Linked DNA regions of Homo sapiens: region 2 is linked to region 1. Evidence: fine-mapped expression QTL. Tissue or cell type: whole blood. Region 1 holds a variant in brackets; the other region holds the start of a gene. All regions are shown on one strand. Distances are from middle to middle.

Region 1 (5,193 bases):
TAACTGGTCCTTTCAAGCACTTTGTGGGAATGCTTCCTGAAAAAGATTGCTGCTATGCTTTATATGATGCAAGCTTTGAAACGAAGAAATCCGGAAGAGTATTGTTTGTTTGTTTGTTTTTGTGGGCACCAGAACTACCACCTCTGAAAAGTAAAATGATCTTCACAAGCTGTAAGGATGCAATCAAAAAGAAATTTCAAGCAAATGGACCAGAAGATCTCAACTGGGCTTGTATTGCTGAAAAGTTAGATGGGTACTTAATTGCAGCTTTTGAAGGATGCTCTGTGTAGGCCATCATTCAGTGCCACAAATGGAAAGCTTCCATGTTTAATGTTATCCGCTTGCTATATAAATAAAGCAAACATATGTTTTTAAAAAAGAGAAAACAAGAGTAGTGCTCAGATAGAATGTGTAGCTCATGGAATTCAGTACTGGGAGTCATGTTTAGTTCCTGGTGTGTGCATTTGCTAAACAGGATTCCACTAAACAGCCAAGGATACATACCCTCTTTTAATTAAATAATAGAAGCCACATGAGCATTGTCTTAGAGTTTGGGGAGAAAATGTGTAACCCTAGAAATTATGCCCATTCGTGTATTATCAATGTGTACAAGTCACAGAAAGACATTTTGGAAAGTATATTGCCCAGGAACTTTTTCTGAAAAGGGTGATATGGCTGAAAGGATTCAGCCAAAAGAAAACTAAATTCAAGTAAAATAAATTAAAAATAAAACGAAGAGAGCTTCTATAATAAAGAAGCATTTTCTGTGAAGAGGCATTTATGTAACTATTGATAACAATGAAACCCAGTTATAAATAGTTAAATCTAAATATTTCTGATAATATGAAAAAGAAAGAGGTTTGATGTGAAAAATTAGTAAGGAATTAAACATACATATTTTTCCAACACTTCGAGTCATATGGGGGGAGAAGTTACAGTGTCCAGAATTTTGATGATCTGAGAGGTAAAGAGTTATTTAAACAAAAATAGTTGTTAGGCTGGGCACAGTGGCTCACGCCTGTAATCCCAACACTTTGGGAGGCTGAGGTGGGTGGATCACTTGAGGTCAGGAGTTCGAGACCAGCCTGGCCAACATGGTGAAACCCCGCCTCTACTAAAAATACAAAAATTGGTTGGGCATGGTGGTGCGTGCCTGTAATCCCAGCTACTCAGGTGGCTGAGGGATGAGAATCACTTGAATGCGGGAGGGAGGTTGCGTGAGCAGAGATTGCGCCACTGCAATCCAGACTGGGTGACAGAGCAAGACTCTGTTTCAAAAGAAACAGTTGTGGAAGTGATAAATGCACAAGGTAAAGACATTTGAACCTGAGAAAAGGCGTGCAATTAAGAGTAATGAAAGGTAAACCTTCATCCTGGGCTTTCCCTTCATTGCTCTTCTGAGATGGATTCACTCTTTCCTGCCCTTGTCTTTCTTTGATTTCCTTATTTTGTTGGAACACATCCTAAATACGATGAAAGGTATGTTTATTCTACCATTTTGCTGTATTGGTGATTGAGCTAGGTCTAGAATTCTAGAACTTTAAAGGCTTGCTTTTTATTTTCCAGCCCCCAGGATTGCTGATGGCATTCTGACACCTTTTTGTGTGTGTGTGTGACAGCTTTTACTGCTGTTATCATTTTTGTGTGTGTGCCTGAAGACTTTAAGATTGCCTCTTCATTTTTGGTGTTCTGAAACTTGACCATGACGTGTCTGGTTGTAGGTCTTTTTTCCATTCAGCCTATTTAGTAATTGGGGAGGGGAGCTTTGAGTGTCTTCAGTCACCTATGTGAATTAACCCAGCCCTTTTTCTTCAAATATAAATGGGCCACCATGGACCACCAGACATTTCTGCAAAACCAACAGTAAAATTGAGAAGGACTAAGATGAACAAACAGGAAAAAAAAAAAAAACAGATAGCATTAAGGGAACTGAAAGTTGTAAAGTGCTGACTGGTCTCTCTCTCTAAATCCATGACCACTGAAACCTCAAGTAGCTCAGAGTGCTGCTCAGCAGCTGT[C/T]CTTCTTTCCCCATTCCATCTGCTCCCCTAGGCGATGCCTTTATAGCTTACCTCTTTCAGACCTCCAGTGCAGTCTCCCCATGCCACCTCAGCTGATTACCTTGCTCCTTACTTTCTTGAGAATTAGAAGTGCCAGAAGAGAATTTTCATGAGCTCCCATTGCCAGATCCACTCAGTCTCCTGACCCAGTACCCACATGCCTTGTCTTCCTTCCTATTTGTGTGCAGTAATTGTCTCTACTCTTAGCTCAGGCTGGCTCTTTCCCTGAAGCCCTAGATCCTAACCTCTCTCCGCTTCTTAAGAACATGGCTTCACCATTCTCTGCCTTCTCTCCTGAATCATCATTTCTCCCCTCTCTACTGTATTATTCCCATCTGCAAACATGCTGTTATTTTTCACATCTTAAAAAACCACAAAAAGCATTTCCACCTTCCCCTCCAGCTACTGCCTTTCGTCTCCCATTGTCTCTCTCTCTGTCTCTCTTTTTGAGACGGAGTCTCACTCTGTCACCCAGGCTGCAGTGCAGTGGCGCAAACTTGGCTCACTGCAATCTCTGCCCCCTGGGTTCAAGCGATTCTCCTGCCTCAGCCTTCCAAGTAGCTGGGACTACAGGCACACGTCACCATGCTCAGTTAATTTTTGTATTTTTAGTAGAGACAGAGTTTCACCATGTTGGCCAGACTGGTCTTGAACTCCTGACCTCAAGTGATCTGCCCACCTTGGCCTCCCAAAGTGCTGAGATTAGTCTTGAGCCACAGTGCCCACCCCCATTCTCCTTTAATCAAGATTTTGCCCCCACCACTCTACCCAAACAAATCTTGTCAAGTTCAACAATGACCTCCTTATAACTAGACCCAAAGGTCAATTTGCAGGCCCCAGATTCCACTGGATGCAGGGAATCATGCCACCTACCTTGAAGCACCATCTTTACTTGGCTTCCAGGACCCCTGCACTCTCCTGGTTTGCCTCTGATCTCACTGGCAGCTCCTTCTCACTCTCTATTGGTGGTTCTCCCTCCACTGTCCACCCTCCTAATATTGGGATCTCCAGGACTCAGTTCTTGATCTATTCTCTTCTTTATCTACACTTCATGAATTTCTTTTTAAAGTCCATGTATATATAATATCTATAATCCTAACTTCTTTCCTCTGATCTCAAGGCTCATGTATTTCACTGCCTTGTAACATCCCCTTTTGGATCATAGGCATCTTATGCTTAGAAAGTCCCAAATTGAGCTCTTGACCTACCCCTTACCTCCAAAATAGCTTCTTCCACAGTCCCCCTCATCCCTCAGTAAATGCTAATTCAGGTCTCCTAGTACTCAATCTGAGAACACAGGAATCTTCTCTTTTCCTCACTTGACACATCCCATGCATTATGTATTATATAAAACTTACCCATTATATATCCAGAATCTGACATCTCATAATCATCTCCATTTAGCTGGTCCAAGCTATCATCGTTTCACACCAGAACCTTCTGAAATAGTCTCCTAACCAGAGTAGCCAGCTTGTCACAGTTTGCCTGGTACTTTCCCAGTTTTTGCACTGAAAGTCCAGTCTCAGGAAATCCCTCAGCCCTGGGCAAACCAGGATTATTGATTATCCTACTTCCAACTGGAATCTTCTCTTCTTCCGTTGCCTCCTTACAGTCTATTTTCAATACAGCTAGGGTGATTCTTTTAAAATGCAAATTTTATTATGTCACTTCTCTGTTCAAAACCCTTCAATGGCTTCCTACCCAACTTAGAAAGAAAGCTATTGCTTTCAGTGGCCCACAAGACTATAGGATCCACAGGCTTGTAGGAAAAGATGGAGAATTCAGCTTTGAGCAGGCTGATATTGCAGTACTGTGGAATGTTCAACTGGCAATGTCCAAAATTGAATGGAGTATCAAGAATATCTTCTGTTTGGAAAACAAAAATAGATTGCTATGGAAAAACTTGCAAGAAAGAATTCTAGGAAATTAGAAATATTTGTTAAAATGAAAAAAATCAACGGTAGACCTGAAAGACAAAATTATAGATGCTCTGTCTGGTGATACTAATGATATATTCATAAGTAATATGCATATGATATAGTTATATATTATGTAAGATAAAAATATATAAAATACATATAAATAAATTTATTAAAAAATACATTTGCAACATGATGCACCAAATTCCCAAAATCTTCAGCATGCATCTTTCCAAACCAAGGACACTCTTCTACATAACCAGCATACAACTCTTCCAGTCAGGAAATAAGAAATCAGCTCTAACACTAACATCTAATCCAAAGAATATATTCATATTTTGCCAGCTGTCCTAACAGTGTCTCTTTCCTGTCTAGGCCAGGATCACACTTTGTACTTCATACACAAGTCTCTTTAGTCTCTTTCAATCTGGAATAATTCCTTGGTCTCTCCCTGTTTTTCATGATCTCATTAGTTTGAAAGAGTGCAGACCTTTCAGTCTCTAGGACGAAGCTCAGCCTGGTTCCACCAATGTTTCCTCAGGACTGGATTCACATTTGTGTTCTGGGAGTGCCGAAGCTCAGCCTGGTTCTACCCATATTTTGTCAGGACTGGGTTCACACATGTGTTCTTGGAGTGCCAAAGCTCAGCCTGGTTCCAGCAGTGTTTCCTCAGGACTGGGTTCACACATGTGTTCTGGGAGTGCTATACGGAAGGGAGGCTGTCCTCTTCTCACTGCATCACACGAGGGGGCATACAACGTGGGCTTGTCCCTACACTGGTGATGTTCATCTTTAGCACCTGGTCATTTTGTGTCAGGTTTCTCCACATTAACTCATCAATTTTCTATTTGTAATTGATGAACATTTTGTGGGAAGATATTCTCAAACTATGCCAATATCTTGTATCCCATTAAATCTCCACTAACTTGACTTAGTAGTTATTGATTACTTTTGCCTGAATTAACCACCATTATGGCGGTTGTAAATGGTGGTTTATCCATTATCATCATTCCTACGATATATATTAGCTGCTATGCTACTATAAGGAAGACATTTCCCTTTTCCTCCACTTACTTTTTTACTTTTTAAAAAAATTACTCATACTCAATCCTCTACTTATTTTTATTGACATAGACTCATGGATTCCTATTTTATTCAGCAGATTTAATCCATTACCATCAGTATTTATTTTAATATCAAATTATTCCAGATTTGGC
Region 2 (5,193 bases), 63 kb after region 1:
AAACAAAGGTGGTCTAGGAAGATGTTTAAAGACATATGATACAGCTTTTCTTCCTTACTCACAAGCTAAAAAGCTGCACTTTGGCCAAACAAGATGAGGGGGTCGAAGCATCAGCTGTGGCCAGCGTGCCGTGAGAATCCCACCTGTGAAGCAGCCAGCAGATTCTGAGCCCCTCAAGAGGGCAGGTGGGATCAAGGTTCAGCTAGAAGCCCCAACTTTCCCCTGGCTCTTCTGGGCAGAGTGAGTGATGCCAGAGAGCCCAACTTCTCGGAATGCCTGGGCTGTGCTGCTAGGAATCAGAACAAGTCCTTGGGAAAGGCAGCCAAGATCTGGATTCTGCCATTCTGGTTCCACTCCCTCCTATGACCGTGACCTGCTGTGGAGCAGCAGAAGTTCCCCTCCTTGTTCAGCTCCTCCATTACAGGTGCTGGTTCCAAACGTCTCTGGACTCAGGATACTGGGTCAGAGGCTGGGGCTGGGGAGGAGCAGTTGGATGCCTGGATCCCAAGAAGGAGGTTTTTTGAGGCTAGGGTCTCTGGCTAGGGAGAACCATACCTGACATTGCCACTGTGCCATAGCTGCCTAGGGCCGGGCAGGCTTCCTCCTGGGATGGGGTGGGGTGAGGAAGGGGATAGACGATCGTCCTGACTGGGTCAGCTCTAATACGTTCTTTGCTTTCCTGCCCCTACAGCTCTGGATTCTTCACAACCTCATTCAATAGTAGTCAGTGTTTTTCAGGTATCCAAACTTTCTGAGGCTCAGTTTCCTCATGACAACAACATATATCGTTTCTTGAGCATCAAAGATGGGTCAGGCAGTGTGTTTGGGACTTCCTATACCATGCCTTTAATCCTTGCAGAAAGTTGACACATACCCATTACATGGCTTCAAAGGCTGATGGACAATCTCCATTTTAAAAGCAGGAAACAGACTTAGCAAGCCCAGTGCACAGTCACCAAGTGCAGAGCCAGGACTTCATTCCTGACTTCATTCCTTCATTCCAAAGCCAAGCTGCCTATGTCCCCATCTGTGAAGTGGGGCCAGCTGAGGAGCAGGGTTCAGGAGCAGACTTTGTGGAGACTGGCACGTGGCTGATGGATAGTAGGTGCTCCCATCCCAGAGGTGTGGCAAGTGCCAGGTAAGCCTGAGCACTAAGAAGAACCACACTGAAGTTGGGCTGAGACTATTTCCTGCCCTGCCTTCCTTTGTGAAAATAAAGCCAAGCAAAGAGGAAGATGAAAGAATCCACCCTAGCCTTCCTGAGCCCATTTCTCATTCCCAGGGGTTTTGAACCCCAATCCACTGCCCCCATTCCCAACCCACAGTGGTCCTCAAGGCTCTCCAGCACAGGTCCGTCACCCACCCTGCCTCCTCTCAGGAAACCCAGCTCCCTCCAAAGCGCCCTCTGGGCCTGGGATGCCCTGAGCAATGCAAGCTTTCTTGCCTGCTTTCACGTGGTTCAATTTTCCTTTTTTTTTGGCTCAATTTTTTTCTGCCTCAAGTTTTCTACCTCAAGTATTTCAAAAATTAATTTTTTTTTCTTTTCTTTTTTTTTTTTTTTTTTGTGGAGTGGGTGTTGAAAGAATCCTAAACTTTCTTAGCCATTCTCTGGACTGAGCTATAAACTCACAAAGCAAGGATTGCAGGCTCTGTGAGGCTGTGATTGCCAGAGGCAAGGCAAGAGAAATAACAAGCCGTGGTCAGTCCTCAGCTGGGGCCTCTGATGGATTTCCTCCTGTCTTGCACTCATAATTTCTTTCTGAAGACCATGTTTTCCACCCACACAAACCTGAGCCTGAGTATCCTCACAATGGTTATAACAACATATATCAAAATTGAACACTAAATTTGTGCCAGGAATTTATTAATGGAGAAACCCCGCCTCTACTAAAAATACAAAATTAGCCGGGCGGTGGTACATGCCTATAATCCCAGCTACTTGGGAGGCTGAGGCAGGAGAATCACTTGAACCCAGGAGGCAGAGGTTGCAGTGAGCCGAGACTGTGCCATTGCACTCCAGCTTAGGCAACAAGAGCAAAACTCCGTCTCAAAAAACAAAACACAAACAAGAAAGAAAACCCAAAAAACAAAAAACAAACAAAAACCCATAGATGGTACAAAAAGTGGAAGAAAAAGGAAAAAAAAACCCATGAAACTATCTGCAATGCAGTTTCCTAGAATCAACCACAGTAATCTTTTAGCTTTTCTCTATCTAAATGTTATACATATTTTATATTTATATTAAGTGCATTTATATTTATATTAAAATACAGATACAAATTTAAAAACTCTTTATTATTAAATTTTCAAATAAAAAGCAACTTTTCAAATAAAAGCAGCGAGAACCTCCTTATACCCAACACCTGGCTTCAACTATTAGCAACCCATGGTCAATATTTCCTCTATTTCCCACTTAATGTCTCTACTGAATTATTTAATTTCACCCATAAACACTTGTGTGCATCTCTAAAAGTTAAGGACTCTTTTTTGAAAAAGACTTTAATACAATTTCTCATCTCAAAAAATTAGCAATAATTCCTCAACAGCATCCAGATGCAATTTTTCATGCTTTTTTCAGTTAGTTTAAAATCATGAGCTTTTCTCCATGTCTCTAAAATGTAATTACTAATGCTTCTAATACTATTCCACCAGGTTGAGTGTATTATAAATGATCTGATCACCCCTTGCCTCCCACTCTTCCATCCCCTTGGACATATTTAGGCTACAACATCCCCAGGAAAATGGTTTCCATTGTCTGCACGTAAGCAAACAGGCATTATTAACCTATTAGCTGTCCACTGCTCCACCCCACCCACAGGTACCCAACTAGTCCTGTGCACCTACCTGGCGTGGACTGCCAAGGGAACCTCTGGATCTGCCAGTCAGCCACCCTGTCCTGCTCAGACTTTACCAGAGACGAGTATTTCCCTTTCCTTCCCTCTAAGAGCATTTTATTTGCAGAGTTAGCCAATAGTATCTTGTTTCCTGTAAGGGAGACTATCTTTAGATGCTGCCACAGGCAAGCTCAGATACTCCAGGGTGGAGGCCAGCTGCCAACAGGAGGGCCTGACTTTATAAACCTGGAAGATCTAAACCTCAGGGAAGACTGCGGAGCTGGAGGGAGAGAGGTGCCACTTACCCCAACCTGGAGGTGGGGGGCAGGGAGCAGGCCCTGCAGTCAGCAAAGCACAGCACAGTCAGCTCTCATTAATGGGGAGCCTTCAGGAAGCTGGGAGAGCTCATGGGGCCCTCAGCTTCCCTGCCCACGAGAGGGAGCCCAGAGTACTCACTGGACCACACTGGGGCACACACAGCTCTTCTCCTCAAAGTGCAGTCCCAGGCACTGGGAGCTTATTAAAGACAGCACCTCAAGCCCTGCCCTATATCTGCTGAATTAGAATCTGCATTTTAATGAAATTCTTAGAAGAGTGATATGCATACTAAGTTTGAGAAGCTTTGGTACTGAAGGCATCTAGTGAGTACCTTGCACCTTGTAGATGCTCGGTAAATATTTTTTTCCTCACCTCTCTGCCCCAAGGCATTTAGTGGCTCCCTATACCCATCAGTCAAGGCTGAGGACACAGCTTTCACCCAGGACCTGGCCTATGCTCCTTTCACAGTCTCTCCCCCTGCCACTCTTGCCCTGCAGTGGGGAGCCTGGTGGGCTCCGGCATCCAGCCATGCTTCTGCTCCCTGGCCTGGCCAGCTTGGGGCGACTGCAACGTGAATCTCAACTGCCACTGCCTCATCACCTTCCGATCACTTCATTACCTGCCTGACCCCTGGCATATGCTATATAATTCTGATCCATCCCTAACTAGGGCCTGGCCCATGGTGGCCTTCAATACACCTTCATTAAATGGTCTGTGACCCCTTCAAGGCCCCTCTGGCCCCTTGCTGCCCACATCCCAGCCACATCCGGTGCTCCCTTACCTCTAGTCGCTGTGGTGTTCCGAGGACAGCGGGTGCTCTGTGTGCTCCCCACCTTGCCCCTCCTCACCTCCCCCAACCCCAGGACAGAGCTGGGGGCTGCAGTGCAGTGCTGCGGGCTTGGTGGCCTGCTCATGGTGGAAGAAGTCCACCAGCAGTTTTCTTTCTTTGTTCTTGGTCTCAGTGTTTGGCCACCTTTCCCTGCCTTTGGCCAGAAGGCCACAGGACAAAAGCAGAGTCAGGCCGCTCCCCATCCACTTTCTGACACTGGCCCCTCCCCACCCCACACCACCCCTTGATACCTCTCCTGGGGTCCACTCAGCTGGGCTGGCTGCCTCAGCCCCTTCCTTGCCTCTGACTCCCCTCCTCTTCTGAGGGCTCCTTTCTTGGATCTGGCCAAGACTCTCCCTCTCTTCCTGTCCCACACTCTTGACGACAGTCTCATCCACCCCACATCAGTAATCCCCTCCGTGTTCATGAGCACACATCTCTACCTCCATCCAGGGCCTGGATAATTTCCCAAGCCCATCTAACCTTCTCCGTTCTCTGTCTTTCCTCTCACCACTTACCCCACTGGCCATTCTCCACCCAGAAGCCAGAGAGCTCTTCCTGAAATCCAAGTCTGCCAACTTAAACGCCTCCAGGGGTTCTCTCATCCTGGTTTAAGTCCACGGCCTGGTAAGCACGGCCCGCCCCTTCTCACTTCCTACTGTGCTCTCACCACTTCCACTTCCCCCAACATGCCTGTGCCCGTGGCAGGCTCTCTTCCCTTCCCAACTCACCTGGCTGTCCTGTCCAGGACGTGATTTTACCCTCTTTTAAAGCTAACGGCTATGTTCCACAGCTGCTAGCAGCACAGGGCTTCATGCTTGGCAAGCATGAGAACCAGCGTCCAGTGTCAGTTGCCTTGCCCCCAAGCCCCACAGAGTGATGCCATGGCTTGGATAGATACCTGTGAATGTGTGAGGGATGGGGAGGTTATAGGAAGGGAACTCTGACCTTGGGTAACGTGCCATTTTATAGCAAGCAGTAAGCAAGTCGGTTATTTGGCCCTGAGCGAGATGTCAGCTCATCCTTCAAGGTTGCTCACTGCAAACTCAACCCTGCAAGATGGACCAAGTGAAGAGCATTAGTGCTTTGCATTCTTGACACACTCATGGAGACAGAAAGAGCCTTGGCAGCCTTCCCCCTCCCTCCACGCCTCCTTGGGCCTCTGTAAAGGAGTCTCTGGCTCAGCGCTGGGAATTCTCTCCTCCCTGAACT

Evidence for each region. PIP is the estimated chance that this variant, and not a neighbour inherited with it, causes the effect.
Region 2: CX3CR1 starts here. The variant in region 1 is fine-mapped to the expression of CX3CR1 in whole blood (TOPMed, PIP above 0.99).

What each region holds. Positions count from the first base shown.
Region 1 is chr3:39,214,383-39,219,575 of GRCh38, forward strand. DSTNP4 (DSTN pseudogene 4) reads left to right here. Exons shown (of 2, transcript XM_047449432.1): 2 at 1-290. The coding sequence ends at 290. Among named protein-coding and RNA genes, the nearest start is that of DSTNP4, 4.2 kb to the left of the region's middle. The variant C/T (reference allele first, on the strand shown) is at 2,019.
Region 2 is chr3:39,277,110-39,282,302 of GRCh38, forward strand. CX3CR1 (C-X3-C motif chemokine receptor 1) reads right to left here and starts at 2,927. Exons shown (of 2, transcript NM_001337.4): 1 at 2,845-2,927.